Linked DNA regions of Homo sapiens: region 2 is linked to region 1. The links come from fine-mapping of genetic effects on gene expression. A gene starts in region 1. The other region holds a variant in brackets. All regions are shown on one strand. Distances are between the middles of the regions.

Region 1 (16,613 bases):
ATAAAAAAAAAAGGTTAAGACTGAGTTTTTATGTTATATGTCTTTTACTACAATTAGGATTTTATGACATGGAAATATCTCTAAGACATTCTTTAGTGAAAAAACAAGCTACAGAGCATTCTGTAGAGTATAATCTCGTTTACAGATATATATAAAAAAAGTAGAATGTAACACACATATGCTGACCTCAAAGAGAAGGTCTAGAAAGATAAATACCAAAACGGTAAGTGACAATCTTTACTAAGAAAAGTAAGATAAGCCCTAAACAATGAAATGGAAGCCTTAGTTTTTATTTTGTATAGTTCTATATCATTTGAAATTTTTATACCAAGCCTATATTCCTGTGTTATCTGTGTAAATATATATTTAAACCAAGAACAGATAGGACAAAAAGAGGAAAAAACAGCAAGATGACATTTAAACATAACCAATAAATGTAAATGGATTGAGGCAGGAGTAAGCAAACTACAGCCCACAGCCTGTTTATTAAGCATGTGACCTAAGAAGGCTTTTTATACTTTTAAAAAGTTGTAACTAGGCTGGGCGCAGTGGCTCACACCTGTAATCCCATCACTTTGGGAGGCTGAGAAGGCGGATCACAAGGTCAGGAGATCAAGACCATCCTGGCTATCATGGTGAAACCACATCTCTACTAAAAACACAAAAAATTAGCCGGGTGTGGTGGCTGAGGCAGGAGAATGGCGTGAACCCGGGAGGCAGAGCTGACAGTGAGCCAAGATCGCACCACTGCACTCCAGCCTGGGCGACAGAGCTAGACTCCGTCTCAAAAAAAAAAAAAAAAAAAAAATAGTTGTAACTAATCAATGAAACAGAGAACAAACCATATGAATGAACTTTTTGTGATCTGTATCAGTTCAGTTTTATCAAACCAAGGAAGGAACTTCAGTTACTTTTGGTCAAATTCAACATTTATAACACCCAACTTCCCTTCCTTTTTTTCTTACCTTGCCAATACTTTCTTCAAGGGATTCTTTAGACTCAAAGAAAGATAAATGCCTGCTAAGATATCCAAACAACTTTGAATAGTGGGATCACACATGCCATTTTTATCTGCTTTCTCCAGCAGAGGCACAATCTATAATACAAAACATTGAAGTAATTTTTATAATATCAAATATAGCAAAGTAACATGGTTACAGATACTCTTTGAAGTCTCAATTGCTGGGTACAGTGGCTCACCCCTGTAATCCCAACACTTTGGGAGGCTGAGGTGGGCAGATCGCTTGAGCCCAGGAGAGTTCGAGACAAGCTCGGGCAACATGGTGAAACCCTGTCTCTACAAAAAAATACAAAAATTAGCCAGGCATGGTGGCACATGCCTGTAGTCCCAGCTACTCAGGGGGCTGAGGCAGGAGGATTGCTTGAGCCCAGGAGGTTGAGGCTGTGGTTGAGCCAAGATCACACCAGTGCACTCCAGCCTGGGTAAGAGAGTGAGACCCTATCTCAAAAAAATAAATAAAACAAAGTGTCAATTACGTGAAATGTTTTCCATACTCCACTGTCAAGGATACTGATTTAAACACCTATTTCACTATTTATTAACTTTTTAAACTCATGTCCCCACCTCCCTCTTTACCCTCCAGACCCACCTCCACAGAGAATCACAGACCTGTTAATGGCTTACAGTAAAGAACAGCTGTAGCACTATTAAAAAACCAGTAATACATTTACTTGCTTTCCAAAAAAAAAAACTATGTGTGCTCAAATGGTAAATCCTAATACTGAAATACTAATAAGTATAATCTTTATATTTTAAATTAACTTTTAAATGTGTCTGCTAAAAAGTTTTGAAGATTCATATATTTTAAAATTTATCTCCACAAAAGAGGTATGCACATTATCTTCTACCTTATCTGTTTACAGTTCAATTATGATAGAAGTCTGAATATGGCTTCTATTGCTGCTTTGAATACAAGGATATTATACAATAAACAGAAAAAAAAAAATACTTATTTGCTAATGATAAACTGATATGCAATAATTAGGGACCAAAAACTGTCAGTGATTTTTTTTAAATCCTTAATAGCATGATACTCTTAAAGATGCATCCATGAATATCAATTCAGACTTACCTGTTTAATATAATGGATTTGTGACACTCCATCCGTGAGTTGCACACAATGTAACAGCAAAGAAGCTAGATTTTTCCCTTCCACATCAGCAAAAGCTATATAACATATACAAAAAAAAATTTTCAATGATTTAACAGTGAGTTAACTTTGCCTTTGTTGTGCATTCTACAAAATTTTTTAATTATAAACCATAGCAATAGGTGGAACATAGTCTGAAGACAGAATTTTAAGAAAATTGTTTTACATCCAAAACATAAGGAAAAATATAAAGAATTTGAATATTATATGCTAGGGGTCCCAGTCATTAAAATACTCTGCTTGCAAACTAGAAAAAAATATAATAAGGGAAACCAGAAGTCACCTACATTTCAAAGTTTCAAGGTCCTGATGGCAAATGGTCAGCGCAGCAACTTGCATTTCTTTCTTCTTCTTTACACCCATTTTAAATAGAATTAATAGTAGTCACTGCAAGAAAGAAGACTTTAAGGCATTAATGTAAGGTTTCTCAACCTCAGCACTATGATTTTTGGCTGGGTTCATTCTTTGTTGAACAGTATCATCCTATGCATTATGTTTCATGCATCCCCATCTCTACCCACTAGATGCCAGTGGCACCCTCCTCCCTCCCAAGTTCTGACAACCAAAATATGTCTCCAAACACTGTGAAGTGTCCCCTGGGGAGCAAAACTGCTCCAGAATGAGAATCACTGTCTAAGAATTTCTGATTTGAAGAAGAAAAATGTTTTAAGCTGAAGCTTATTACTGACTGAAGTTATTTTACCTACTATGACTCAGTCTTTGTATTTTAAAATACAGCAAACTTTCCTTTTAGTGAACATACACACAAAAAAACTGGGATAGTTTTTCCAAAGATAAAATACTTCAAACTAACCTCAGTGACTCATTAGACTAAGAGGAGGTACTACCGTGTCCTGATTTCTGCAAAAATGAAAAAAAATATTTTTTTAATGCTATTCTCTTGAGTTTGCTTTTATCGATACTTAACAAATCAACGGGTTCATAACAGGCTAAACAACCCAACTCAGAGACTACACAACTACACACTAATAGTACCATGCCATCTGGAAAGAAGTTGCTAGGGAAATGTCATAGGGCTCTTCTCTTGATGCAGTTAGCATCTTTAGCAGTATTTATGATGCAAATATTAGAGACTATAATGTAGTACATGTATAAAATAAATCTGGAAGGACATGTTGAATGATGGAATCAGGAATAAAAACAGGTCAATAAACTGGAATAACGAGCAATATGAAATTTACCAAGATGAAACAGAAATAAATACAAAGGGCTGCATTTAGTTTAGGGGAAAAAAACACAGAAAGAGAGGCTGGAGAGGCAAAACGTGGTTTGAAACAGCTCAACAGCCCAAGATGACTGCCAAAAACCACAGAAGTCAGCCATATCAGAGTGCATGATTTTATTCAAACAGGCCAGGTGACATGTAGAGCATTAGGTACAGCGCTGGCGGCCATACTCTAAGGAGCCATAACAAACAATGGAACTATTTCTGAAGGACCTAGAGAGCACCTCCTTCAGAGAACAGCTCAGTTAACCAAAGGTGTTTGGCCTGGAGAAAAAGTCAACAGAACAAGAGCCTTAAAACAGCTGCTAGACTGTTTTGGAGAAAAAGGGAATAGATTTATTTGTCTACTACAGACTTTTTTTTTTTTTTTTTTTTTGAGACGGAGTCTTGCTCCTTCGCCCATGCTGGAGTGCAGTGGCGCGATCTGCGCTCACTGCAAGCTCAGCCTCCTGGGTTCAGGCCATTCTCCTGCCTCAGCCTCCCGAGTAGCTGGGACTACAGGCGCCCGCCACCACGCCCGGCTAATTTTTTCTATTTTTAGTAGAGACGGGGTTTCATCATGTTAGCCAGGATGGTCTCGATCTCCTGACCTCGTGATCCACCCACCTCGGCCCCCCAAAGTGCTGGGATTACAGGCGTGAGCCACCGCGCCCAGCCTTAGACTTCTTGTCTTGCTATTAGATTAGTAAAAGTCAGTACAAGCTACAGGGAAACAGATTCCAGATCAATACAAAGGAAAAGCTCTATGGTCCCACTAAGGACTGGGCTACCTTTTAAACAAAGAAATTTTCCAACACCAGGAATATTCAAAGAGAAGATGACTGAATATTTTCTCTTGGACTCCTGAAACAGCTCCCTAACTGGTCTCCTGACTTCTACACTTACCTCCAAAGAGCCCATTCTGTTTACAATCATCAAAGCAATCTCTTTAAAAAAAACTCTCATCAAATTGAATTACTTACTCTCTTCCTTAAAACTTTCCAAGGGTTTCTAAATACACTTAGAATAAAATTCAAACTTGAGGCCAGGAGTGGGGGCTCGTGCCTGTAATCCCAGCACTTTGGGAGGCCGAGGCGGGTGGATCTCCTGAAGTCAGGAGTTCAAGACCAGCCTGGCCAACATGGTGAAACCCCGTCTGCACTAACTAAAAATACAAAAATTAGCCGGGTGTGGTGGCAGGCGCCTATAACCCCAGCTACTCCGGAGGCTGAGGCAGGAGAATGGCTTGAACCCAGGAGGCAGAGGTTGCAGTGAGCCGAGATCGTGCCACTGCACTCCAGCCTGGGAGACAAGAGCGAAACTCCATCTCAAATAAATAAATAAATAAATAAATAAATAAATACTTGAGATTTTGCCCTTCAAGGCCCTAAATAATCTGACCCTGCCTTCCTCCACTCTTCATCTCAAACCAATCTCCTCTTCACCATCTCAAGAGCTTTGTACTTCCTGATGCTCTTATTCCCACCTAAGAGGCTTTACACTTCTCAGTATCTCTGCCCCTTAATGTTCATTCCACATCTTTGCAAGACTGACTCCTTCTCACCATTCATGTTTCTGCTGCAACATTACCTTCTAAAAGCCTTCCATGACCACTCTATCTAAAATCTCACCAATACAACACACGTAGACACCATTTCCGTTAATTTTCTTCATAGCACTTACTAGTACCAGAAATTACCCTAACTTGTAAATTTGTATATTGTCTGTCTCACCTAGTAGCAAACTGAATGAAGGCAGCAACTTTAATCTATTTTGTTCATGTTTCAAGTCTCAATTTCCAAACCAGTGCCTGGCACATAGTAGGTGTTTAACAAACACTTCACGAATAAACAAATTAATTAACAAACATTTGTCAGAGATGTTCTAGAAGGGATATATGTCTTTAAGGGCAGGAAGGTGGACTATCTGGTACCTAAAATGCATTCTACATCTAAGTGACATTCTACATCTTAAGAACCTATGGTCTGTTTGGGAAGTAAGAAATCCATACAGTAATGGCAGGTGAGCAACCACTTAACCAAAAATGGACGCAGCTAGGAAAGTGTCGACAACAGAATAATTTGTAAAGGGATAGTCAGATCTAGAGGAATAGAGGCACGCTTCCTAAGAAAGTGACCATCGTACAAAGCCAGAAGAGACTGGGAAACCTAACTAGGGAGACTATTCTCTGGTGAAAGGTAAGCAAGTTTGCAGGAGGATTTGCTCTTGCAATTCTGAGGGCTACACAAAAGCAGACTCGGTAATTATGCCTGCTCAAATGATGCCTAAACGTGTGTCCTGAAGAACCAGGGTCCCCAAGGGGGTAAATCCCGTGTCTACCGCAAGGCCAGAAGGTGCCCAGTAAATTACACTCCTCCTAGGTCCCACTTACTGCTTCCCTTTAGAACGCTGCTTCACTCTACACCTTCCTGGCTGACTCCCACAAACATTCTCTGGGCGATTTCTGAACCACGTGGAGTCGAGGAATGACAGTGGGAGAAAGTGGTTAAAGTGCTGTCTCCATGGAGACCTTAGCGACCGGAAATCAGTTTCACAGCCGCCGAATCCTGGCGATACCAAAGGATGGGAATTGGTGTGGCTCGCCAGGCAGCCCTAGCAAAACTGGCCGAGCCGAGCTACCGCGGGTCTGGCAGGCAGGACACCTGGGAGCCAAACCTCGTGCACGTCGGCGTCTGAGAAGAGTCGCAGGCGCCTGGTCCAGTCCCGGAAGCAGGTCTCCTTCTACGGCGTCTCCGAGGCTCGCAGCGCGGTCCACGGTCGACTACCGGGTCAGGGCAAAGGGAGGGAGAGAGGGGTAACCTGGAGGAGTCATCGCGAGAATTGACCAAACGCAGCTCCTCCAATCAGGAGTTCGAGGAGGTCGTGACGTCACCGGGGTGGCCGGTAGCAATCCGGTTTAGTTAACCAGCCACTGTACCGTCAGCGCCGCGCGTTCCTCATGGCGTTAGGGCTGACGGGCCTTGTTGCTGAGGGGCCTTCATTCAACGGTCTCTTGTTGAATGAAAAGACCTCATTCTCTTCACATGCTTGGACGCCTGGGAAGCGCTTTTCTCCCAATCCAGACCTTCCACCTTTCTCCCACTCTGTTGGCCCAGTGCAGAGTCTAGGAGAAAACTACGTCTGGGACTCGGGAACGAGTCCAGGGAGTTTAGAGCCTGCGAGATGGGGCAGGGGTTTGGGCGGCGACTGAACGGAAGCCACGAGAAGGATTCGGACTAAAATGAGTAGTGCTGAACCAACGTGTGCCAAAGCGCATATATTCATTCAATAGATAATGAACTCTACTGTCAGAGCGTCGCCAAGCGCTAGCCTTGAAAGCTATCCCCTACTGAGGATACATGTATTACGCAGCACATACAAATTGTCAGATGGTTCAGTCCTTGAAAAATAAATACAATAACGGGGTGTCACTGGGAGCTGCGACAGTGGGCAAGATCAGGAAAGACCTGATGCTATTATCAGGAGTATTAATTTGGAAAATAGAGACATTTCAGTTCTCTAAACGTTAATGACTTAAGTTTTTAATAATTATTTTCTGAATTTTTTATATCAGCTTGCCTTGGTTTTCTTTATAGCTTTACCACATAATGTATGTATCACTATCTTGTTTCGTTCAATTTTGAAGCTTTTGGAATTGCGTATGTATTCTCCAGCAATTTGCTTCTTTCAGCATTGCTTTTCATATTCACCTACAGGTGGCTGTAGTGCTCTTCGCCCAGGCTGGAGTGCAGTGGCGCGATCTCGGCTCACTGCAAACTCTGCCTCCCGGGTTCAAGTGATTCTCCTGCCTCAGCCTCCTAAGTAACCGGGATTACAGGCGCGCGCCACCACGCTCAGCTAATTTTTGTATTTTTTAGTGGAGACGGGGTTTCACCATGTTGCTCATGCTGGTCTTGAACTCCTGACCTCGTGATTCGCCCGCCTCGGTCTCCAAAAGTGCTGGGATTACAGGCGTGAGCCATGGCGCCCGGACCGTAATTTTCCATTGTTTAATATACTTCATTATGTATCCATCCTGCTGCCTCTTAACATGTGCATTATTTCCAGTTTTTGTTCTAAACATTGCTGCTGTGAACTATGTTGTGCATGTCAGCTGGTGAGTGTGTGCAGACGGTTCTCCACCATAATTTTTTCTGGTATTTTTGACCCTGACATAGTAAGAAATACATTGCAGACTTTGAAACTGTGGACGTAGAAGTACTCACACATAACTGAAGTAAAAATTTCTTGAAATGCTACTTTACAGGAGCTGTGAGATTTTATTTCCTTTTTTTCTAAATTATGGTAAAATACACAGCAAAATTTACCATTTTAACCATTTTTAAGTTTTATGTTTTTTAAAATATGTATATTGTTTCAGACCTACTAATTATATAACTCAGTGGGTCCGAACCCCTTTTTTGTTGGCAGACACTGCAACTCTTCACCCTGCACAGCGAGAGGTGGGCTAGGGAGCAAACATAATAAACATATGTTGAAAGGTGAAGCTACTGTTAAAACTTCAGACAAATTAAACTTAACAGGGTTTAATTGAGCAAGGGGAAAAATGATTCTCAAATCGGGCAGTCTCCAGAATCATAGCAGATTCAGAGAGACTCCAGGGATGCCTCGTGGTCAGAGCACATTTACAGACAAAGAAAGGAAAGTGATGTACAAAAAGCAAGTGAGGTACGGAAGCAGCTGGATGGGTTACAGCTTGGCATTTGCCTTACCTGAACACAGTTTGAACAGTAAGCATTGTATGAATAGTTGAAGTATGGCTGCTGGGATTGGCTGAAACTCAGCTATTGTTACAGAAGCACACTCCTAAATTAGGCTTTCAGTCTTGTCTACCTACTAAGTTAGGTTATGGTTCATCCACAAGGACTCAAATATGGAAGTGCAGAGGCTTTCTCAGGCGGTATTTAGTTCAATTTAACACCGCCATGGAAAAAATAGGGGAATGGAAAGTGAGAGTATAGGGGAGGTACATTGCAACTTTAAATAGGGTAATCAGGGTAGGCCTCACTGAGTAAAGATTTCCAAGAGACATAGACACTTGGTGAAGGGGAAACCTTCCATACAGAGGGAACAGCCAGTACAAAGTTTCCAGGGCAGGGCTTGCCTGCTGGGAGAATAGCAAGGAGGCAAGAGTGGCCGGAGCCAAGCAAGGTAAATACTAAGGAGTGGGACAAGGGGCTTTGGATTATATAAGGCTTTCACATTATTTCATGGACTCTTTCATGAAATGAGGAGTGATTTTGAGCAAAAGAATAATAACATCTAATGTACATTTCAAAATAATCACTGGAGCTACTTTGTTAAGAAGAGACTGTAGGTCGGACGCGGTGGCTCACGCCTGTAATCCCAACGCTTTGGGAGGCTGAGGCGGGTGGATCACCTGAGCTCAGAAGTTCAAGACCACCCTGGGGAACATGGTGAAACCTCGTCTCTACAAAAATGCAAAAAAAAAATTAGCTGGGCATGATGTTGTGTGCCTGTAGTCGCAGCTACTCGGGAGGCTGAGGCACGAGAATTGCTTGAGCCCCAGAGGCAGAGGTTGCAGTGAGCTAGCATTGCGCCACTGCACTCCAGCTTGAGCTGCAGAGTGAGACTCCGTCACAAAACAGAAAAAAAAATAAAAGACTGTAGAGCCTGCAGGAAGCCCAGTGAGGCTGTTGTGGTAAACTAGGCAGGCAGGATGCTGGTGGCACTGACCAGGGTGGTAGCAGTGGAGAGCGGGAAGTGGACAGGTTTTGGATATAATTTGAAAGCAGAGCTAACAGGATTTTTTTCTGAAGGATAGAATATGGGTATGAAGAAATGAAGAGTCAAAGATGAGTCCAAAGTTTCTGGCCTGAGCACCTAGAAGGATGAAGTTGCCAAAGTTTACTTGGAGCAGATTTGAATGGGTTTAAAAGAGACTGGGAAGAGAGGAATTGGCAAGATCAAGCAGAGGCAACTCCTTCTAGTCCTTCTAGTACGCAAGGGGCAGATAAATGGAATGGTAACACCTAGAGGAAGTATACTGCCAAAAGCAATCTACAAATCCAATGCAATCCCCATCGAAATACCACCATTATTCCTCACAGAATTAGAAAAAACAATGCTAAAATTCATATGGAACAAAAAAAGAGCCCGCATAGCCAAAGCAAGACTAAGCAGAAATAACAAATCTGGAGGCATCACACTACCTGATTTCAAACTATGCTATAAGGCCATAGTCACCGAAACAGCATAGTACTGGTATAAAAATAGGCACATAGACCAATGGAACAGAATAGAGAACCCAGAAATAAACCCAAATACTTATGGCCAACTGAGCTTCGACAAAGCAAACAAAAACCTAAAGTTGGGAAAGGACACCCTTTTCAACAAAAGATGCTGAGATAATTGGCTAGTCACACATAGGAGAATGAAACTGAATCCTCATCTCTCACCTTATACAAAAATCAACTCAAGATGGGTTAAGGATTTAAATCTAAGACCTGACACTCTAAAAACTCTAGAAGATAACATTGGAAAAACCCTGACGTTGGCTTAGGCAAGGATTTCATGACCAAGAACTCAAAAGCAAATACAATAAAAACAGAGATAAATAGTTGGGACTTAGTTAAAGTAAAGAGCTTTTGCACGGCAAAGAACAGTCAGCAGAGTAAACAGGTAACCCACAGAGTGGGAGAAAATCTTCACAATCTATAAATCTGACAAAGGACTAATATCCGGAATCTACAATGAACTCAAACAAATCAGTAAGAAAAAAACAAACAATTCCATCAAAAAGGGCTAAGGATATGAATGGGCAATTCTCAAAAGAAGGGCCAGGCACAGTGGCTCACACCTGTAATCTCAGCACTTTGGGAGGCCAAGGCGGGCAGATCACCTGAGGTCAGGAGTTTGAGACCAGCCTGACCAATATGGAGAAACCCTGTCTCTACTAAAAAATACAAAATTAGCCAGGCATGGTGGTGCATGCCTGTAATCCCAGCTACTTGGGAGGCTGAAGCAGGAGAATCACTTGAACCCGGGAGGTGGAGGTTGCGGTGAGCCGAGATCTCACCATTACACTCCAGCCTGGGCAACAAGAGCGAAACTCCATCTAAAAAAAGAAGAAGAAGAAGAAGAAGAAGATACACAAATGGCCAACAAACATATGAAAAATGCTCAACATCACTAATGATCAGGAAAATGCAAATCAAAATCACGATGCAATACCACCTTACTCCTGCAAGAATGGCCATAATCAAAAAAATCAAAAAACAGTAGATGTTGGCATGAATGTGGTGATCAGGGAACACTTCTACACTGCTAGTGGGAATGTAAACTAGTACAGCCACTATGGAAAACAGTGTAGAGATTCCTTAAAGAACTGAAAGTAGAACTACCATTTGATCCAGCAATCCCCCTACTGGGTATCTACCCAGAGGAAATGTTATTATACAAAAAATATACTTGCACATGCATGTTTATAGCAGCACAATTCACAGTTGCAAAATCTTGGAACCAACCCAAATGCCCATCAATCAACGAGTGGGTAAAGAAACTGTGGTATATGTATACAATGGAATACTGCTTGGCCATAAAAAGGAATGAATTAACAGCATTTGCAGTGACCTGGATGAGATTGGAGACTATTATTCTAAGTGAAGTAACTCAGAAATTGAAAATCAAACATCATATGTTCTCACTGATCATTAGGAGCTAAGCTATGAGGACACAAAGGCATAAGAATGATACAATGGACTTTGGAGACTTGGGAAGAGTGGGAGGGGAGCGAGGGATAAAAGACGACAAATATGGTGTAGTGTATACTGCTTGGGTGATGGGTGCACCAAAATCTTACAAACTAACACTAAAGAACTTACTCATGCAAGCAAATACCACCTGTGCCCCAATAACTTATGGGAAAAAAATAAAAAATAAAGTGAATCAATAAATCAATAAATAAAATTCTCAAAAACAACAACAACAACAACAACAACAAAAAACCCCTACGTTCTCGTAGAGAATCATCTGTTACTTTCCAAACGTACAAACCCCAATTATTTCCAGGCAACAAAGGTTTTGTTTTAAAGGTTGAAATAGTGACATCTTTGAAGAAGATATCCTCTTTTTTGCTAGGCATCTGGTGGCACTACCAACTTGAGACCACTTTAAATACACTGCTTGAGGTTTTTCAGGACACAATAGCATGAATTTGAACTACAAACTTTTATAAAGTAACTATGTATTTTATTTGTGAACATGTGTTCCAAGGAAATTTTTAAAGGATCCTTAGTATATAAAAGTGTAAATGAAAACACTTGACAAGGCCTGGTGCGGTGGCTCATGCCTGTAATCCCAACATTTTGGGAGGCCAAGGCAGGTGGGTCACTTGAGGTCAGGAGATTGAGGCCAGTCTGGCCAATATGGTGAAACCCCATCTCTACTAAAAATACAAAAATTAGCCGGGCATGGTGGCGGGCGCCTGTCATCCCAACTATTCAGGATGCTGAGGCAGGAGAATCGCTTGAACCCCGGCAGGTGGAGGTTGCAGTGAGCCAGATCACACCACTGCACTCCAGCCTGGGTGACAAAGGGAGATTCCATCTTGAAAAAGAAAATACTTGACATAGTAACAGTGGACTAGATAAAAATCATAAAAAGTAATCCTTGTGTCGACATTTTCTTTAATGTAGTTTAGCATTGCAAATATGTACCTGTAAAAATAATATTTTCCACTCAATTAGAAAAGGGAATTTTAAAAATAATTATTTAGAGTTGGGCGCAGTGACTTCTGACTGTAATCCCAGCTACTTGGGAGGCTGAGGCAAGAGGATTGTTTGAGCCCAGGAGTTCGAGGCTGCAGCATGCTATGATCACAACTGTGAACAGCCACTGCACTCCAGTCTGGGCAACAGAGAGAGACCGTCTCTACAAAAAAATTATTATTATTTAATGACATGATTTTATATGTAATTATTAAGATTCTTTTACATTTGAATGGACATTTGAATAAGTAAAATTTGACCTTTTAAGGCCACAAAAGAAAGGCTTTAATTGCCTACATAATTACTACCTGTTCATGAAGGTCAATAACAGCCAAAACTTCAGAAGCAGTGTGACTGACCAGTCAAAAGTAAGGTTCTCTTGCAAGTAATCTTTTCTGTACAGAAAAACATGATAGTGTCTCCCAGTTTCATAGTCATTTTTACATCTCCCAAAATTATCACGTATGGTACTCTGCGAACAATGCATGGTGCCATGTATAATTCAGCAATCCCCCATATTAAATAGTTTGAGGTTTTTGTTTGTTTATTTGTTTGTTTTAGATGGAGTTTCGCTCTTGTTGCCCAGGCTGGAGTGCAGTGGCACGATCTCGGCTCACCGCAACCTCCACCTCCCGGGTTCAAGCGATTCTCCTGCCTCAGCCTCCCAAGTAGCTGGGATTACTGGCATGCGCCACCATGCCCGGCTAATTTTGTATTTTTAGTAGAGAGGGGGGTTTCTCCATGTTGTTCAGGCTGGTCTCGAACTCCCGACCTCAGGTGATCCACCCACCTCAGCCTCCCAAAATGCTGGGATTACAGGCGTGAGCCACCGCGCCCGGCCTGAATAGTTTTATATCTAAAATGAAGCCCAAAACTGTATACTAGACCTATGAATATAAATATTGTGTTATTTAATATGTTTGGCCCCAAGTCAGTGAAAGAAAGCAAAGTACTGTACTATTACTTATATATCTATTTATCTGTCTTAAAACAATAAACATGTATTATCTCTTAGTTTCTGTGGGTTAGAAATTCAATTTGGCTGAATGTGTCTGGCTAGGAGTCTCTCATGAGGTTTCAGTGAAGATGTTGGCTGGGGCTACAGTCACCTGACAGCTTGGCTGAGGCTGGAGAATCAGCTCCCAAGATGATTGACTGACTTCTTGGTGCTGGTTGCTGACACAAGCCTCCAGCTCCTCTCTACATGGACCTCTTCCCAGCTGCTTGGGCCATCTTACAACATGGCAGCTGGCCTTCCCAAAAATAAGCAAGAGAGTACAAGGTGGAAGATTCAGTGACTTTAATGGCTGAGCCACAAAGCAACACAGCATCATTTTGACAGTATCCTATTGGTTACAAAGGTCAGCTCTATTCAGTGAGGGAGGCTCTACACAAAGGTGTGCATACCAGGAAGCCGGTATCATTGGAGGGCCGATTTAGAGGCTGCCAACCATAGTGTATTAGGCCATCCTTGCATTGCTATAAAGAAATACCAGAGACTGGGTGCAGTGGCTCATGCCAGTAGTCCCAGCACTTTGGGAGGCTGAGGCAGGTGGATCACCTGAGGTCAGGAGTTCAAGACCAGCCTGGACAACATGGTGAAACCCTGTCTCTACTAAAAATACAAAAATTAGCTGGGCATGGTGGCACGCACCTGTAGTCCCAGCTACTCAGGAGGCTGAGGCAGGAGAATCACTTGAACCAGGAGGCAGAGGTTGCAGTGAGCCGACATTGGGCCATTGGACTCCAGACTGGGTGACAAGAGCAAGACTCCATCTTAAAAAAACAAAAAAACAAAAAAAAAAAAACCAAGAAAGAAAAAAAGAAATACCTGAGGATGGGCAATTTAGAAAAAAAAAAAAAAAAAAAAAAGGCTGGGCAATTTAGGAAAAAAAAAATGTTTAATGGGCTCATAGTTCTGTAGGCCATCCAGAAAGCATTGCACCAGCATCTGCTTCTAGGGAGACCTCAGGAAGCTTACAATCATGACGGAAGACAGAGGGAACGGCCACATCACATGGTAAAAGCAGGAGCAAGAGAGAGTGGAGTGGGAGGTAGGTGCCACTTTTACAAAACCAGATCTTACGAGAACTGACTCACTTATCACCGAAGGGATAGGCGAAGCCATTCATGAGGGATATGCCCCCATGATCCAAACACCTCCTACCAGGCCCCACCTCCAACACAGGGGATTACATTTCAACATAAGATTTGGTGGTGACACAGATCCAAACCATTTCATATAGTAATGATAACACCTTTGCAGATTTCCCTTGCTGCCTAAAATGCACTAAGGGATCATAACTAAGGAAAGACTTATTTATGATTTATTTGAATATAATTTCCATAGAGTATCTTAAGGAAACAATAATTTTCATGTCTTCTTACAAAGTTATTTACCTTTAATGACATACATTTTCATGTAAGTCAGCATAGAACATAAACATAAAACTAGGTTGATTTTAAGAAACCTTTTAGATATTCTTCAAACTTTCTCTTCCTAAGCAATCCCTTCCTGAGGGGCTGGGCGCTATGGCTCACACTTGTAATCCCAACACTTTGGGAGGCTGAGGCGGGCAGATTACTTGAGGTCAGGAGTTAGAGACCAGCCTGGCCAACATGGTGAAACCCAATCTCTACTAAAAATACAAAAATTAGCCTGGCGTGGTGGCAGGAGCCTGTAACCCCAGCTACTTGGGAGGCTGAAGCAGGGGAATCACTTGAACCTAGGAGGCAGAGGTTGCAGTGAGCTGAGATCGTGCCACTGCACTCCAACCTGGGCGACAGAACTAGATTCCATCTCAAAAAAAAAAAAAAGAAAACCCCAAAAAACAAAAAACAAAACCACAATTCCTTCCCACGTAAGAATATGTAGTGACTGTTGTCTGTGTGACACCACCCTCTTCCTTCCACACACACCAAGTTCCCACTTGAGTGACCTCAATATTCCCTGAAAGCATTGTCCTTTCATCGACTGTGCTCTCTGCTAGGCTTCATCTCACATTTTACCTCCTCAGTGAAACCTGACAAGAAATTCCTATTCTCCATCATACTTAGATTTCTGTCTCAGTGACAGCATTATCAGTTTGTTAGTTGATAGTAATTATTCTTATGCTTGTCAGTCTTCCTACTGATTTATAAACTTTTCCATGTTGGACACCATCTTTAGATTCCTAGTGCCCAGCACAGTGGCCAGCATGAGTAGCTCTGCAAATTGTTGAGTTAGGATAACCAGGCCAGCAAGTCCTCTGCAGTGGCAGCGTGCAATGGTGCTTACTTTACCACTGTGTGGCAGCAAACTACAGAAGTATTTCCACCGTTTAAAATAAGGAGGAGAGCTGAGATGAGTATTCACAAACTATAGTATAACTTGCCAGCTCAGTTGAAATAATATACTAAATTTATTATGAAATACAACTATCCAATGGAAAATTACTTTGTTCATAACATTGCTCAATACTGTTTTTAAATTTATCCACATTGTTGTTTGTACTTTTTATATCAAATAAACAAATATTTAAACTTTAAAAGAAAATGTAATAATAAGTAAAAATAGTTGTAAAATAATATGATCTAAAAATATTAGAACAGAAAATTATATACACATTGTGTTTTCAACTTTGTAAAATAATGGGTACTATGAACAGGGTTTGGAAGAGAATGGGTTTGGAGAAGCAGTTTGTCAGGCGAGTAAGATTGTGAGTGAGTTTTTTTCTTAAATTTTCTTTAGTGTTCTAACATGGGCTTAATAAACCTTTAAGGCCTGTTTTTATAGGTTGTAGAGTTGCTAATTGGAACATGCCCAAATTACCACAAAGCTGCCATTTTTTACCATTTGGATTATAATACTGTCATCTTAAAGAAAGCCCATGGTTGCGTTGGGCACAGATAGAAAGCCGTATTCTTAAATTGAGTTTAGCCTCCGTACATATTTTAAGTTTGGCCTACTGTTTTCTCCATACTTAGTTGGTTGTAACCTAACTTGATGTTAAACAGACTGTAACCTGATCTCTTAAGTAGCAGAGGCTCAGCCAGTCACAAGCAGCCAGCTGTTCAAACCAGGTTCAAATAAAGCAAATGCCCAGCTGTAACCAATCCAGTTGTTTCTGTGCATCACTTCTACAGGTCACTTTCCTTTTTCTGTCCATAAATGTTATCCAACCATGCCAAAGCCCAGGGGTCACCCTGAACCTATTACGATTCTGGGGGCTGCCCAATTTGAGAACCGTTCATTACTCAAACTCTGTTAAAGTTAATTTGTCTAAAGTTTTTCCTCTAAGTATATAAAAATTTAAAATGCATAGCACCATCTTTGATTAAAATGCTTTTGAAAAGAAAGTTTTTTTCTCATTCTTGTTGCACAAAGCATTCTTGTATCCCCTCATTATTCCCCCATTCAAAAACATCTGTCCATATGGCAATCCCAATTCTTAGCCCTATCCATAGGAGACGGGACTAGTAGCTCAC
Region 2 (16,613 bases), 180 kb before region 1:
TGGTTCAGAGTCAATCATTTTCAAGACAGAAAGGGCTCTTTTCCAATCCCAAACTTCCTAGTATGTTTGTATGATGGTGACAAAATGGTCTCTTCATCTTCTTCTGTTCATTAAGGTATTCGGTACTCACAGTCCCACAGTTCTTAAATGGATACATAATGCTTTATATGCAACAGCAATCCCATTCAAAATAATGCAGGCCATGCAGCCCACCCATATTGTACAGTTGGCCCTCAGAATCCTCAAAGGATTGGTTCTAGGACCCGTGAGATGCTCACGTCCCTTATGTAAAGTATGCACAGTATTTGCATATAACCTATGCATATCCTCTGGTACACCTTAAATAATCTCTAGAATACTTATAATATTTAATACAATGTAAATGTTATGTAAGTTGTTATGTTGTATTGTTTTTACATTTGCATTGTGTTTTATTGTTGTGTTTACTTTTTCTCCAAATGTTTTTGATCTACAGTTGGTTGAATCCATAAATGATTGGATGAGGTCCAACTGTATTTGCAACTGTGACTGAAGCACTGGAGCTGTCAGGAAGTAATATTTACTTTTGTTGTGGTAAAACACACATAACCTAAAATTTACCATTTTAACCATTTTTAAGTGTACAGTTCAGTGGCATCAAGTACATTTACCAAGAAGCTTTATTTTAGATTCAACTGGACTCTGGCCTTGATGCGTGGATATCTAGTCATTCATTGGTTGATACTCACGTCTTCACAGAGATACATGTCATTCTATTTCCAGGTAACCTCTTGGCTAGGTATTCGAAGTCAGAGTTCATCCAACATACTATGGTTTGTATGCTTGAGGTGAGGAATGAACCACCAAAATGAAGCATTTGTCTATTTCCTTCCAGATGAAAGATAGAAACTTTGATCTTCTCTTCCTTGCCATTAAACCTTTCAGAAAATAAGGAACCCACTATTCCTTGACCTTTGGGATTTTTACAAACTTCAGACTTCAGTTCAGAACACAGACTAGAAACTGTCCAAGAAAAACATGCCCCAAATGAACAGGATATAAACAAAACTGTAACTAGGTAATTAATGGTAGGGACTTGACTCCCCTCACTGCTTCTCTGATAACAATCTGGCACTTTATCAGCAGGGTCTTTTATCTGGAAGGATTCACTGTGTTCTGCTGCTTGGAACTATTCTGGGAGGGCACAAAGACAAGCTTTCATCTTAGAAAGGAAATGGAACTACATCTAGAAGGGGTAAGAAAGAGTTAAAGCTGTAAAAAGAACTCCAAGTCTTTCCCTGCCAGAAAGGAGAGGTGAATGGAAAACACGATGCCATGCTTCACTGAAAACATGAGAGCAAATTCTAATGGGAAAGAAATCACTGCAGTCTTCCAAAGGTGGCAACTTGCTTTCTCCCTTTGTTTCGAGTTCTACATTTTCTCCCCAACGTATTCTATTTATCTTCCTGTCAAAACCAAAGAAACGTAAACTAATTCATACTATGGCATAAATGACTACTAATAACTTTTAAGTAATTTATGTTTCATTGAGATGTCCATTTTAGAAGGGATCAAAACCATATACTAAAAGAATGAAAATCTACAAGGTTTAGCTCATAATGGAGGAGGCATCTGAGAAAATTAAGTGGGTAGAGGGCACTGCTTATGACCTGTCAAATCATTTAATATAGGTTTCAATTACCCTAGGGGTAAAGCTGGTCTGGGTCAGTGACTACAGTGGAGTCACATCTGGCCCTTCCAGTGGCATCATTCCTAGGGAAAAAGGGACTGTTAATGGGAGTATGTATTCATTAGTAGTAGTAGAACGTGCTCCCTTTATTCCCTCTCCAAGCATGGGCACTCCACTCAGATCTCATAACAATGTCGTGGACTGGTTATGGAAGAACTCAGGAAAAAACAGGGATTTAAATTCCTCATCCTACTTAGAACTCAGGAATATTTATCCAAGGTTGGGCCAGGGTGGGTGGCCAATTACAAAATCTAGAGCCTGGGGCTTCTGTGCCAGATCATGGATTGCCCAGCGACACTAGTTCTCTTCTGTCAGGCTGTGGAGCCCCCGAGGTTCATATCTAGGGCCCTCGTGACGCTTCACGGTGGGTCAGGCAAGGAGGAGGACACAAGGAAGCTGCTCTGCTGGCTAGCTTTCAACGGGGAATTCTATCAGGACATGGCATTCTAAAGCTGCTACTTTAGAGACATGTTCAACCACGCAGCAGAATGCAAATCTCTCTCTAGTCAAGCTTTTCTTAAGTCCAGTTTTCATTCTGGCTACAAATTAAATTCTGATGTCTTAAATCACACAGAAAAAAGGGTGGGGGGATAATAAATGATTGAATTATAATAATTATATGACCCTGAAGCTTAACTAGAAAAAATAATTCTATTTCTTAAGTTTCTCTTCAGTAGAATTATGCAGGTTATAATTAGTATTAAGTCAATTTTACTTTTCATTTTATCCAAACCAGAAAGAAGCTGAGCAAAAGGGATTCTCCTGGGAAAAAAATGAATAAACATTCAGGCAAGAAACAAACCAATGCTACCCACACATCACCCAAAAAGACAGATTATTGTCTGAAAATATTGTCTGTCCACTGCTTTGTAAATTCTTTTCTTGTCTGTGGTGACACATCTGTCAGTAACAATTCAACTTTTCCTGGGCTACCTGGATATATTTTTCCACAGTTTCTGCTAAAACAGATGCTTCTTTCCTGTATGATTTAATAACCAAAAGGGAGCAGGCTTATTTACACAGTAGCCTGTAGATTTCATACAAATATATATTTTGTTAATGCTCCGGACACTGTAGAAACTGAACAGAAAAATCTCATTAATGTTTCTTGGTTTTGTGATTATTCAGACTGAGGCCTACTACAGCCTACTGTAGGACTGAGAGTTTTCAACTAAAGTAGACAAAAATGTGGCATCTCTTGGGGGCTGGTGGTCAGGGCACAAATGTCCCAGATCAGGAATTTTCCCTAATGCAAAAACCCCAGGGGACACATCTCATCCTCCGTGTACCCTCCACACAGGTTTTGGCTGGTAACCTTTGGATAATTATGAAAAGAGGGCAGTAGGACTATGTACATAAAAGATATAAAATTGGCAAACCAAGGGCGGTGTGAACCCACTTCAGAGGCCTTGGAGTACAGATGATCAACTAACAACCAGATGCTATTGTTACTTATCCATTAAAGCAGTTTCCTGAAGTTATTATATGCAATCTTAAGTAACAAAACCTTCCTTTCATACTATTCAGTAATGTAAACGCTTCACAGATTTAGATTTCCTTTTTTTCCAAATCAGTTTACAATTACTGCATAAGAAAACATTGGCAATTTAAAAAAGTTTCAACACGAATTGATATCCTCATGGCTGTTTTCTTTTTTTTTTTTTTTTTTTTTTGAGACGGAGTGGCTGTTTTCTTTATAAGAGAGTAAAAAGAGAAACAATCAAGTTACTATATGTGAAAGTACACTCTAAACTTAAATTCTTATGTAAACATTTGCTATTATTGTTTTTTTTTTCTAGCAACCCTAAAGATTTTCAAAATTACGTAAAGCAGTGGAAACTTAAGATGACATACTAAAGACAGATAGAAAACATATTTTCTAAGAGTTTAAAAATTATGCATAAATAGCAGCCCACAAATAATCTCATTAAGATTTTAGGCTTCTTAGCCTCAAGCCACATTCTCTCTTTACTAAGACACTTATAACTGTGCAATGACCCATGATTTCCTATTATAATAAGGAAAATTTCCTTTGTAAGAAATTCTCAGTGTTTCTCAAGAATCTCAAAACTTCAGTTGAGCCAGTTTTATTTAGCAACCTGTCACAACCACTTAAGCTTTATTGCAAGTTTTTCTTCCTTTTCTCCTGATTTCAGATTAGAAAATGAGACTACTGCCAACGAAATGCCCAAGGGGGGAAATATCTCAAGAAAGCAAAGTAAGTCCAAATGTTTGTTAGGTAAAGCTGCAGGTTAATTTTGGCATGCTGAGAACTACCCTGTCATACTTCACAGACACAGCATCATAAACAGATGAGCAAAAGCAAGTATTACAGTGTTAAGAGCTAGAATAGCTAAAGCAGTCGCTAACAGCATGGGTTCTAGAGTCAGATTGTTTGGGTTCAAATTCACGCCTTATCACTACCAGTATGAGCTAGGTAGGACACATTTAGAAAGTTCCTACTGCCCAACATTCCCCCCCTCTGTGGAATGGGATAGTAACGACAATGACTTGATAGTGCTGTCATCATGATTAAATGAGTTAATATGTGTAAAGTCCTAAAATATTGCCTGGCTTATAGTAAACATTTGCTAATTATTATCATTTATCACTAATCAGGATGGAAAAAATAGGAGCAAAGAAGAGATAAGAAGCATCGTCAAAAAGGATACCTCATTATGCCAAAAACTGTATCTGTCTGATTCACCACTCTGTTTCTAGTGCCTGAAACATAATTGTTTTCAATAAATATCTGTTGAGTGAATGAATAAATGAATTTGCCCTGACTCCTTAGGGAGTCACTTTTTGAATGTGGGCATATTATGTCTACTCTCTCTGGGCCTTGGCTTTTCACCTCCAAAGAAAGGAACAAGCACCTGCTACTTGCTACCTCAAACTGATGATAATCAACGTAAGAAGCAAAGCAAATCATTTCAAGCTTACTGGAGCGCTTTCAGAAGTCAGTGATTTTTTAAACCAATGCTCCTTTGTTACTGGGTATGCATGAACACAGTCACTGACAGCGGGAGGAACCTCTGTGCCACCCTGAGTCCTGATTCTGATATGTTTCCCTTAAAGAAGTTCCCTGACTGCAGCTAGCCAGGTAGAGCAAGATGTCAGACATTGTACTAGGCCCTAAAAGAAGGCTGTTCAAACTTCAGTGTGCAGAGGTAATTGAAATTCTCAACTTTTGGATGTGTGTGAGACATGCAGAAGAAGCTGTCCAATAGAAAGTTGAACTTGTGATTCTATATGAGTTCTAGATCTAGGACCAGGTAAGTGTAGGTGAGTGATAACCCCAGAGAGAGCATGCAAAGTGAAAAAGAAAAGGTTTGAGGGCAGGACAAACAGGTATACCAATGTTTGAGAGGCAGCGGGAGGAAGGGGGCCCTCCAAGGAGAGATAGAAATAACGGCCAGAGAAGCCACAGAAGAAAGAACTCAAGAAGAAAGGAGTCTGCAATAGCATCAAACACCAGAGAAAAAGCAGAAATGAGAAGGAATGAAAAGCACCCAGTGGCTTTTTTAATAAGGAGGTCACTCCTATTTGTTGGTGCAGTTTAGTGAGGCAGTGGAAGAAGCGGCCAGGCTGCAGTGGGTTAAGAAGGGGAAAAATGGAGACTAAACACAGACCACCTTTTCCTAGAGCCTGGCTATAAAACAAAGGAGAGGACTGTGGGTGGAGTGGGTTTCTCCATGGACAGAACCCACACCTGATGGCCTCCACATCTTCTCTTGCAAATGAGAGGTGATGAGAGTAGGGGTGTTGGGTTGGGCAAGGGCACAAAGTAGGCCCTCAGTAAATACACTTAATGGAAGGATGAACTGGTGATGAAGAGTGATCACAATATAAAGAGACAGAGAAGAATAAATGGTGAAGAAGAGAATGTCTATAACTGGTTGGAAGGGAGGCAAGATGAGCAGTCAAGAGTCACAATGTTCAAAGTGAGTGAGGAAGGAAAAAGTAAAAGGACGTGAGGGTGAAGGTATCCTGAGCAGCTGATGTAACATGTGTAGCTTGTTTTTACTAGAAGATTAGAAATAGACGGTGGGGGCCAAGGCCCAGAGGGAAAGGGAAAACCCATTCCAGTCAGAGAAAGCTAACCGAAACACACTATGTCATTATTTTTCCTTGTCCTCATTTGAAGCCTTCTATAATTTATCTTTACCTTCTTATTCTATTTCCCAATTCTTATTTTCTTCTGGAAGAAAAAAACACATTTTTGATCTAAAATGTTCTCTACTGTGTAGGATGACTGCCTATCAGTCAGCATTTGGGGCTTGGTAATGTGAAATCCTTCAATTCAGCATTAAAAATGCCTGCAGAGCACCTTTGCTACAATTTTTGAGAAACAATTTAAGAACAAGGAAATAAAAGTTCTGTATGGAAAAACACTGTTAAGATACTTTAAAATGTTAAGTATTACTAAATTTAAATTTTTTTTCCCACTACAATTCATTACTTCCACAAGACTTAAATGCAACACTCAGGACAAATACTGTTCTTTATTAAAGTTACCAAAGGTGCACCATCAATGGTTTCTCCTGTTAAATAGCAAACCATTTATTTTGTGAATTTCCTGGGTCGCCCTTGGTTCAAGTGGAAGCAAAGCTCTTTATGATGCCTTCCAAGTTATGAATCATAAAACTCTCCATCACAATCTTCCCCTTGTTGGATCCCCCTGACTTTTCACTCCTCTCACATGACTTGTTAATCACCATGGGTGATTTCTAAAAGTCCCTGAGATGGCAGACTGAACTCCCACATTTCTTCCTGCCTTGCTATTTGGGAAAGCCTCCCGGACTTCTCCAACCCACTGATGCTCTTCCCCTTCTTTGTAGGCCTCAGTCCTTAGTGTATATGTCATATAATTAAGTGGTTAATATACACGGTATCAGGTTCACAAGCATGTATTTTACCTTATTAGCTAGACGGTAAGTTCTTTAAGCATAAAGACATTTTTCTTTACTTTGCATCTTACCCAAGACCTAACACTAGCTAGGTACACAATGAATGTTTAACAAATACTTGGTTACTCAATTAACTGATTAGATTCTAACTTCTAGTATGAATGGCAGCAATAGGCCATAGATTATCATCATTGTCAGAAATTTCACCTAAGAATGGGACTGTGTGCAGATCAAATCACTTGTTCTAACATGACCTAAACTGGCCTGTTGGGATAACAGATAACACTGAAGAAAAGCTGGTCCCTACAAGTTCTGTTTTTCTAGTTTGCTTTGTCAATGCATTCCATAAGAGGTGAACTCCTCATTCCTTCTGCTCAAAAACATATTTAGAAAATGGTCTTAAAGAGATCTGGCACCAGAAATGAAGTTGGCCAGGCCCCTATCTAGGAACTAACAGATAAAAATTGGTGACAGATAACAAGGTATCTTTTTATGCCAGAACTATTTGCAAAAAAAGACACATAATGCAAAACATAATTTCATACTACATGCTGAACCTCAGCTACCCTGGGTAGAATTCAGAAATTCAGAGGGCCATGAGTACAGCCCTCCAAATAAAGTGCTAGGCACAGTAAAAAGGAGGCAGAGTAAGTAGCTGCCCAAACAATGTGATTTCCCCAGCAATAGGAAACAACCTTCCAATCTCTGCTTCTAGATCCTCCCTATATAAGGCCTAAAACACCACCATTAGAGTTTTACTGCTTTATTTCAAAATGTATGTATCTGTAATATACAAATACCCCATGGAAGATAACACTGGGGGCATTTACATGTTTTGCAAGTTTGGCCTATAAGCAAAGAAGAAAACTGAGCAGCACTGAACACCTGTGCCTCAACAATCTGGTCCCAAGCCTGACCTGGTATCAGACAGTCACATAGTGAAACCAAGGGGCCAGGGTTTCCACAGAATTATGGGATAGCAGAACCCTTTTTTCACCCAACAACTGTTAGCAGATTAGGATGGCTGGGCAGCGGGGGAAGGGTGGGGGCATACTCCTTTCCTATAATTCCCTTCTCTGAACCTCATGGAATTTAGTAGTAACCACAGACCAGGTAGAGTGCTGGCCAGGGCAGGAAGTTCTATGTCAACAGTACTGGCAAAGCCCTATTTCTCAGGTGTTTCTACTTGTAATGAGCAAGGCTTGGAGACCCCTGTACTCTCTCTCCAGGCAACTCTGTTCAAGATACTTTGGGAAATTGGGACAATAAAGAGTTATCTACTATAACCACTCTTTAGAAAAGCATCTCTGACTTCTCAAAGACTCAGATGTTCTTTTGCTTGTCAGAAAATGTGGCTTAAGCCAACATCTGGAATGGAGAAAAATACAGGAACCACAAAAAAAGGTAATTAAATTAATAAAGAATGCTTTTCAGACATAACATCTCATAGGCCAAAAATATGTTTTCAGAACTATCCAGAACACAGTTACAGAAGTTACTTAAATGCTAAATTTTAGTAGATTAATTCCTGGAGGGTGCCATTTAAGAGCAAACCACTGTGACTTTTTGGGCCATGCCAAGAATGGCATCCCAACTTCTTTTCTTTGAGAGATCGAAGGACCCATAAACAAAAATGTACAAATATTGTCACAGGATTAGAGGCAGGTTGATCATTTCATTCACTGAACATTCAGAATCCACAGCTGAGTTGTTCACCTATTCTGAAATAAGGCATGCCAAACAGATACCTTGATGATATCCAGTCCAACCTCAGGTGCGCTGCAGATATATGCTCAACATGTGATCAGTTTTCCTTGAAAACTTAACACTTTTGCTGATGGGCAAACTCAGTATTATGGAAATATGTTCTTTTCCTTGATAGAGAATACTAATTTTCACAAAATTCTTCTTTAAATTAAAAGCTGAAATCTATCTTCCATTTTCCCATTGGGAGCAAAAAAGAGAAATTATGCGCCTTCTACCATATGGCAGTCTCTCAAGTATATAAAGACCATTATCATGTTGCCACTAAGTCTTCTCCAGTCTAACTGTTTCCAGATGTTTGGTTTCCTCCTCATCTTGGTCACCTCCCCTCGACAGATACTAGTTCTTCAGTGACCTTCCTAAAATGGGGAGCCCAGAACAGAATAATAAGGAGAATAATGTGGGTTTAGGCTAACCAACAGAGTTCAGGGGGACTACAGCCTCCACTATCTGGAAGCAGCAACAGTGTCATGCTGCTTTCTCATGGTTCACCAGGATATCTCATTCACCAAGATATTTTTTCCCCCACAAAAACTGCTATGAAGCCAGATAGCCCTCATTTTGTATGTATATAATTTTGACTTTTCTTTAAAAAATCAGAATGATATATATCTCTATTAAATGTTATCTTGATAGTCTCATCCCATCAATCCAGTCTTTCAAGGCTTTTTTGGGGGACAGGGTCTCGCTCTGTCACCTAGGCTGCAGTGCAGTGGCCCAATCACAGCTCACTTGAGCTGCCTTGACCTCCTGGGCTCAAGCAATCCTCCCACCGCAGCCTCCCAAGTAGCTGGGACTACAGGCGCAAATCACCAAGTCTGGCTAATTTTTAAAATTTTTTGTAGAGACAGGTTCTCCTTATGTTGCCCAGGCTGGTCCAGGCTATTTCGAATCTTACTTTTAAATGATGAACTGCATCAGACATACAAAATGATGACAACAACGAAAAGAATCTAGAGAATAGGATGACATTCAAGCATTTGCCCAATGCCCAATTTAAGAACACATCACAAATAAAATTGTAGCTTCTAGTACATGGCTCCTCAATTTCACCCCTTTCCTCCCCATTCAGAGGTAATGGTCTTATGCCTGAATTTGTGTTTGTCAGTCCTATGCTTGAAGGTTATTTTGAATCTTAATTTGCTCACAAATTTGATAAGCATGCAATCTAGCTTGCCTTCATTTTTTTTATGGCTACTTTTAGCCATTAACAGCATAATCATAAAGCATCATGCTATAAAGTTGCAAGAGATTCTTTCCCTATCTCCTCAAAAGAATTTTCACTTGGACTTTCCAGCATTTGAAGCTATGTCACCAGCATCAGTCTTTTGACTTCATATACCTACCAAATAAGTAGCTTTACTTTCTTTCTTTCTTTTTTTT[T/G]TTTTTTGAGACGGAGTCTTGCTCTGTCACTCAGGCTGGAGTGCAGTGGCACAATCTCTGCTCACTGCAAGCTCTGCCTCCTGGGTTCACACCATTCTCCTGCCTTAGCCTCTCGAGTAGCTGGGACTACAGGCGCCTGCCACTATGCCCGGCTAATTTTTTGTATTTTTGGTAGAGACGAGGTTTCACCGTGTTAGCCAGGATGGTCTCGATCTCCTGACTTGGTGATCCGCCCGCCTCGGCCTCTGAGACCTGATTCGTCTAAGCTCTCCTGGGCCTTTGTTCAGGATTCTATGGTCCTAGGTTTGAGGCATATGTGGTTACCTAGAGCTCTTTGACTGGAACTTGAAACTTGCTTGTGAAAGGGAACTCAGAGATGTATGCCCAGGGACTTTTTGGCCTCTGAAAAGACTTTCTAGTCTCTAGAAAGCCCAGAGAAGCAGGCCCTGGTGAGCTGCATTCAGAGAGCCAGTCAAGGTTCTTTTTAAAGCATGAATTATTCTGCTTTGTGGTACCTGAACTGAAGAATGAATTAATGGTCTTAAATTGAAAGCATCACATTCACATGGTAAAGGGCTTTGTATCTGGATGCAGCACAACATCAGAACATAAAATACACTGGATTTTTTAAAAGTTGTATACAAGATGTTGGGATTGACATTATAAGTTCTGTCCCAAGAGGATGCAACAATCATAATGGCATATATGTTTAGGTATACTCTTAAACATGGGATAAAGGAGTAAAACTACATATAATACTTATAAATACCTTACAGAGAGGAAGGAAATAGCAGGTAAGTACACATAAATCAAAGGGAAACAAAAAGCTCTTGTTGGCGCTTTTAATCTTCTTCTCATTGTGCAATTCACTTTTAGCAGTCAGAGCAACCTTTGCACTACTCCCACAAACTGAAATTTTTTTCTTTGGCCAAACTCATAGTATCCATGAGCCTGATGAAAACCCTTCCAAGTACATAAATTACCCTTAACAACGGTACAAAAATAAAACACTGCTGACCCACTGTGCATACACCCATCCATCTTTTTAGCTATTACCCCAAGTCAAAACAGCCCACTCTTTACCACAATCAGAACCACAAGCACTGCCTGGAATGACAGGTTTTATGATCAGCCTTCCACTTTCTTCATGAATAATATTCTCAGAGGTCATCTAAATCAAATGCATACAGTTTTATCACATTCACTGCTTTTTAAAAATCTGTTTATAGTTCACCTCGCCAGTGAACATTTTGGGGTAGCATGGGTTTTCCCTGTGGTAGGCTGATGAAACCCCAAACTAACTAAATCTAGGGCCTTCCACTTTACCACAGAAGGTGGCCAAGAAAGAAGAGCCAGGCTTCTACTGTATCTGGCCACAAACCAGTCCTATAACCCCAGGCGATTGTCACCATGTGCCACACATGGTTAACCAATCCAATCAGTCACTTTTCCTACAGGAAAAGCAAAATAAGGAACAGATCCCACCATTGGTAGAGACATTACGTCTATATCCAGAAGACAGCCTGTACTCAGATACAGCAGCTGTGGATATAGGCTCCTCATCTCTCTCAGTTGCATACATTTCAGACCCTATAGGTCCATTCCGTGTAGCTAAGTTACTGGCTACTCAAAAGGCAACCAAAAAACAAGGTTATTTTGGTATAACAGAAAGAGTACATCTAACACCCTTGACAAGCCCTGCACTCTTGGGTTCAAATTCTAGCTCTGTAACTGCCTTGCTCTCTGAACCTCAATTTCCTCAACGGGCAAATGAGGGTGATAACACCTCTTCTCAGAGTCACTGTAAGTAAAATGACCAGTTCAATACTTGGCAGAAAGACGGGGCTCAACAAAGGTTGGTCTACTTCCTACTGACTTCTCTGCTCAGAACACTTTCTTTCTTGTTTTCTGCATTCCTGGGTCAAAATCTACTTCTTAATAAATTCCTTAAACTGCCTAACCAATTTTAATAAGCTACTACTGTCTAGCTTGTTAAAATTGTATGTGTGTGTGTGTGTGTGTGTGTGTGTGTGTGTGTGTGTGTGATGGTATTAAATTTAATATCCCAAGTTTAATTTTGCTACTCAAAATGTGATCTACAGACCAGCAGCAGTGGCATTATCTGGAAGACCATTTGGAAGTCGGACTCTCAGGCCTCACCTCAGATTTACTGAAATCAGAATTTATATGATAGCCAAGTGATATGTTTACATCTTAAAGTTTTAGAAACACTGTTCTATAACACACATGGACAGTCAATAAGTCAGAGCCTAGGCTCTGTACTTAAGGAATCAAGGGTGGTGCTTCTGCTTACAGGACATTTTGCTTACAGTGACTCTCAGAAGATGTGTTATCACCCTCATTTGCAAGTTGAGGAAATTGAGGTTCAGAGAGCAAGCAAGGCAGTTACAGAGCTACAATTTGAACCCAAGAGTGCAGGGCTTGTCAAGAGTGATAGATGTGCTCTTTCTGTTACACCAAAATAACCTTGTATTTTGGTTGGTGGCACTTCTGCTGTTGGTGATGTTCTATGAATCTACTTCATAAAGCACCTTACTTACTGGAAGAAAGCAACTACAACCGCAGCATTTTCTTTCACTGGAAGAACAGACTGATTGCAAACTTCTTACTTTGTATTTTTAGAGGTTAACAAATGATGCCCTAAGTACACTGGCTTCAAAGCAATATTTAAATTTTCTATATTAATGCAATCTTTGTTTTATATAATGGATACTTTGAATATAATGAGTAGTATCAGCATTCTGATTATATGTAAACTAAGCAACATTTTGGAAAGGTACTTTCAGGTACCACTGAAAGGTACTTTCAATGTAGTAATTTATTATTTCTAGGATGCAATGAACAACAGACTGAGTAGTAAAAAGCTTCCACAAATTCAATGTTCTTAAGACAGAGCACAGGTTCTAAAGCAAATCTCTGTTTCTAATGTAAACTGCAATTCTGTGCACATGCCTTTCCTCCTTGCATCAACTTTCTGAAAACATTTCTTAGTTCTTTCCACTTATTCATGAAAGAACAATTTTTAAGGCCCCTGAAAGTAAAATTTACCACCCAAATTCCTAAAATGAATCACCAAATGCCAGATGAAGGAGACTGGTAACTTTGTATATCAGGAAACAAAAACCAGTCTGCCTGAGTCATCTCTGTGATCAAAGATAACACAGCCACAGCCAAGGCTTGGCGCAAACAAATAGCTCTGCAAGCGCATGCCAGAACCTCATGTTTAATGGTTTTCTCACATTAAAATGCATAAGTCAGCTCTGTGAAACAAGGAAGTGAAACCTAGGACACTACATACATAAGAAATACTCTCTTGAGTTTGGTTTCTTACCCTTCTGCTCCAAATCCACTTCAATTTTTGGTAGAAACACAAAAATGAAGGTACTGTTTTGTCAAGAGCTAAGCAGAAAGGTAATAGCTAACTAATATGATAGGCTTCTGAAAGGTTTCATGAGAAAATTTTAATACTTCTTGGAGGCCTACATATTTAGGCCTTTGATCCAAAATGAACAAAGTAATCAGAAGACGGCAAATGCCTGAAAAGATGTAACACAAGAAGTGGTAATAGGCTCTAAAAGAAGAGAACCCTGTTATATTATTTCATGAATACTCTATATTCATGGCTTTTTTCAGGTACTACAAACGTAAAAGAGAAGACGAGTGGGAATTCATGCCACATGGCATTACCATTTACATGCCACCCATTGCACCGGCTCGCAGACTCTTCCAGAGTGAAGAGGCAGATGTCCTGACATCCTCTCGAACCCGTGGACAGAAGATACATACCAGAACCAAGCCTGCTCCGTGCTAGCCAGGCTCAACACAGGAATAACGCAAACATGGGGCTATGTCTTTCAAAAGGAGTATCTCCTATCAACACCATCCACCTGCCTTGGAGCAGACAGGGCTCAAAGAAAACATTACTTACACAGGTTCTAATGAGATCCTGTACCCACAATATAAGCACCTTACTCTGAAACACTGGGGGCAATGGCAGGAAAACCCAGGCCTCTGCTTTCACAAGACCCCTCCCAAAGTTTGTGTGTGTGTGTGTGTGTGTGTGTGTGTGTGTATACAAGTTATATATATATACACGCACACACACAATAGTTATATACAAAAGTTTTACATATAATATATATAATAGTTATATATATAATAGTTTTTAATATATACAATAGGTTTACATATATAAAAAAATATATAATATGGCCGGGCGCGGTGGCTCATGCCTGTAATCCCAGCACTTTGGGAGAATGAGGTGGGCGGATCACAAGGTCAGGAGATCGAGACCATTCTGGCTAACACAGTGAAACCCCATCTCTACTAAAAATACAAAAAATTATCCAGGCGTGGTGGCGGGTGCCTGTAGCCCCAGCTACTCCGGAGGCTGAGGCAGAAGAATGGCGTGAACCTGGGAGGGGGAGCTTGCAGTGAGCCGAGATCGCGCCACTGCACTCCAACCCAGGCGACAGAGCGAGACTCCGTCTCAAAAAACAAACAAACAAACAAATAATATATATATATAAAATATATATGATATATATAAAATAGTTTCTGAAATAAGAAGAAGATAAAATATTCCCGTAAAACTCCCACGCCAACCTAGACAATTTCTACACAGCATGACACTACCTCATAATGAAGGGAACAAAAGGTCCCATGCTGAGAGCAGAAGAAGTACCATCCATCGGGGAAGCGTAGAGTCTCTCCAACACCAAAAGTAAGAGAAACATGCTTGGATGACGATTTGGTTCTCCCATATCACTGAAACAACAATTATTACACATGAAAGATTTCACATTTAGGTAGTGAAGCACTCCTCCTTCAAACATTTTTCTCATGAAATAATTATGTATATGGCCGGGTGCGGTGACTAATGCCTGTAATCCCAGCACTTTGGGAGGCCGAGGCGGATGGATCACGTGAGGTCAGGAGTTCAAGACCAGCCTGGCCAATACAGTAAAACCTCATCTCTACTAATACAAAAAACTAGCCGATGTGGTGGCGCATGCCTGTAATTCCAGCTACTCGGGAGGCTGAGGTGGGAGAATCACTTGAACCTAGGAGGCGGAGGTTGCAGTGAGCCAAGATCACGCCACTGCACTCCAGCCTGGGTGACACAGTGAGACTCCATTTCAAAAACAAAATTATGTATATGAAGTGAGACTCCACAATCAAGGGGATAGTTTTCCTTTTTTCTTTTTTTTTTCTACGTTCACTTCTTATCTCCCAAATGTGCATCATAAGAAAAAACTACTAGCAAAACAGGGAAATGGGCTTTCGTACAGGATCCTCTTCTCAAAGCTTATCATTTACATAATTAGAGTACGCTATTTTGATTAGAACTGTTCCTACAGTAGAGACGTGCCTGTTCCACAGTATGAAATGTGAAACTTTCAACATCCAAATGTATTTAAGAAAGCATGAATAGTCACTAAAGGCCAGAAAAGCACATTAGCATAAACTACTAATGTGAGCAAATGCATCATAACCAGAAGTAAAATTCATTACTTTTATTTTCTAATTATAAACAATTAGTGTACATTCATACCAAGTGCAAAATTATAGGAAAAATACAAAAGACATGCTTTATGATGTCCATACTAAAAATTCCACTACCAGCTTCAGAATGTGTGTGTGTTTTTTTTTTCTTTTTTTGAGACGGAGTATTTTTCTGTCACCCAAGCTGGAGTGCAGTGGCAAGATCTCAGCTCACTGCAACCTCTGCCTCCTGGGTTCAAGTGATTCTCCTACCTCAGCCTCCCAAGTAGCTGGGATCACAGGTGCGCACCACCAGCCTGGCTAATATTTGTATTTTTAATAGAGACAGGGTTTCGCCATGCTGGCCAAGCTGGTCTTGAACTCCTGACCTCAGGTGATCCACCTGCCTTGGCCTCCCAAAGTGCTGGGATTACAGGTGTGAGCCACCACACCAGCCAGAATGTGATTTTTAAGACAATGGTGAACTATAAGACTGGAAAGCCCTCGTAATGGCTTTGCTCTGTGTTTCCAAGAACACTGGCCATTTCTGCTCAGGTAGACAAGAACCATTTCTGAACACAAGTGATCATATTAGTCAGCTAATCGCTATAGTTTCACAATGGTAAGTTGCAACAAGCCAGTAATAAAAAATGACAGGTATGCATAAAGCAAACTCAATATGTAAACACAGATTTTTTTAAAAATAGGAAGAAAATAATTCATAACAGAAGAAATCACCATGTGATTCCTAGTTTCTGTACCACCGAAAATGGAATTAAGTTTGATAAAATTTAACATAAAATAGCATTTTTAAAATATAAAGACAGGATTTTACATAACTTTTCAGGTACAAATTTACTACAGAGAACCAAGCAATATGATATAATTACAAAAAAGCACTTTAATAAAAAAGCCAATTTTATGCAAGGAAGCAGTCTGACCGTGCACAGTGGCTCAAGCCTGTAATCCCCACACTTTGGGAGGCCCAGGTGGGCAGATTGCTTGAGCTCAGGAGTTTGAGACCAGCCTGGGAAACATGACGAAACCCCATCTCTACAAAAAATACAAAAATGGGCAAGGAGTGGTGGCCACCACTGTACTCCAGCTTGGGTGACAGGGAAAGACCCTGTCTCAAGGAAAAAATTTAAACAAATTTAAAAAAGGGAAGAATTTTATTAAAAACAGCTGCCTAGAGGGAAAATCTCAATTACTAAGGTAATTCACATCCTTGAGGTCATTTTGCCCCACCCAATTCTCTTCTTACCTGTCTACTGTATTGGCTACAGTTTCCAACTGTTTGAGAAGAAAAGGATAGAGTTCTG

What was found.
Region 2: its variant is fine-mapped to the expression of THADA in blood mononuclear cells (TOPMed, PIP 0.91).

What each region holds. Positions count from the first base shown.
Region 1 is chr2:43,589,859-43,606,471 of GRCh38, forward strand. It overlaps THADA (THADA armadillo repeat containing), which reads right to left and starts at 6,180. Exons shown (of 38, transcript NM_022065.5): 1 at 6,073-6,180; 2 at 2,459-2,558; 3 at 2,094-2,188; 4 at 966-1,096. The coding sequence starts at 2,534.
Region 2 is chr2:43,413,658-43,430,270 of GRCh38, forward strand. It overlaps THADA (THADA armadillo repeat containing), which reads right to left. Exons shown (of 38, transcript NM_022065.5): 27 at 16,556-16,613; 28 at 14,443-14,574. Among named protein-coding and RNA genes, the nearest start is that of THADA, 170 kb to the right of the region's middle. RefSeq lists enhancers at 12,321-12,400, 12,439-13,638, 12,793-12,882, 12,903-12,962. The variant T/G (reference allele first, on the strand shown) is at 9,787.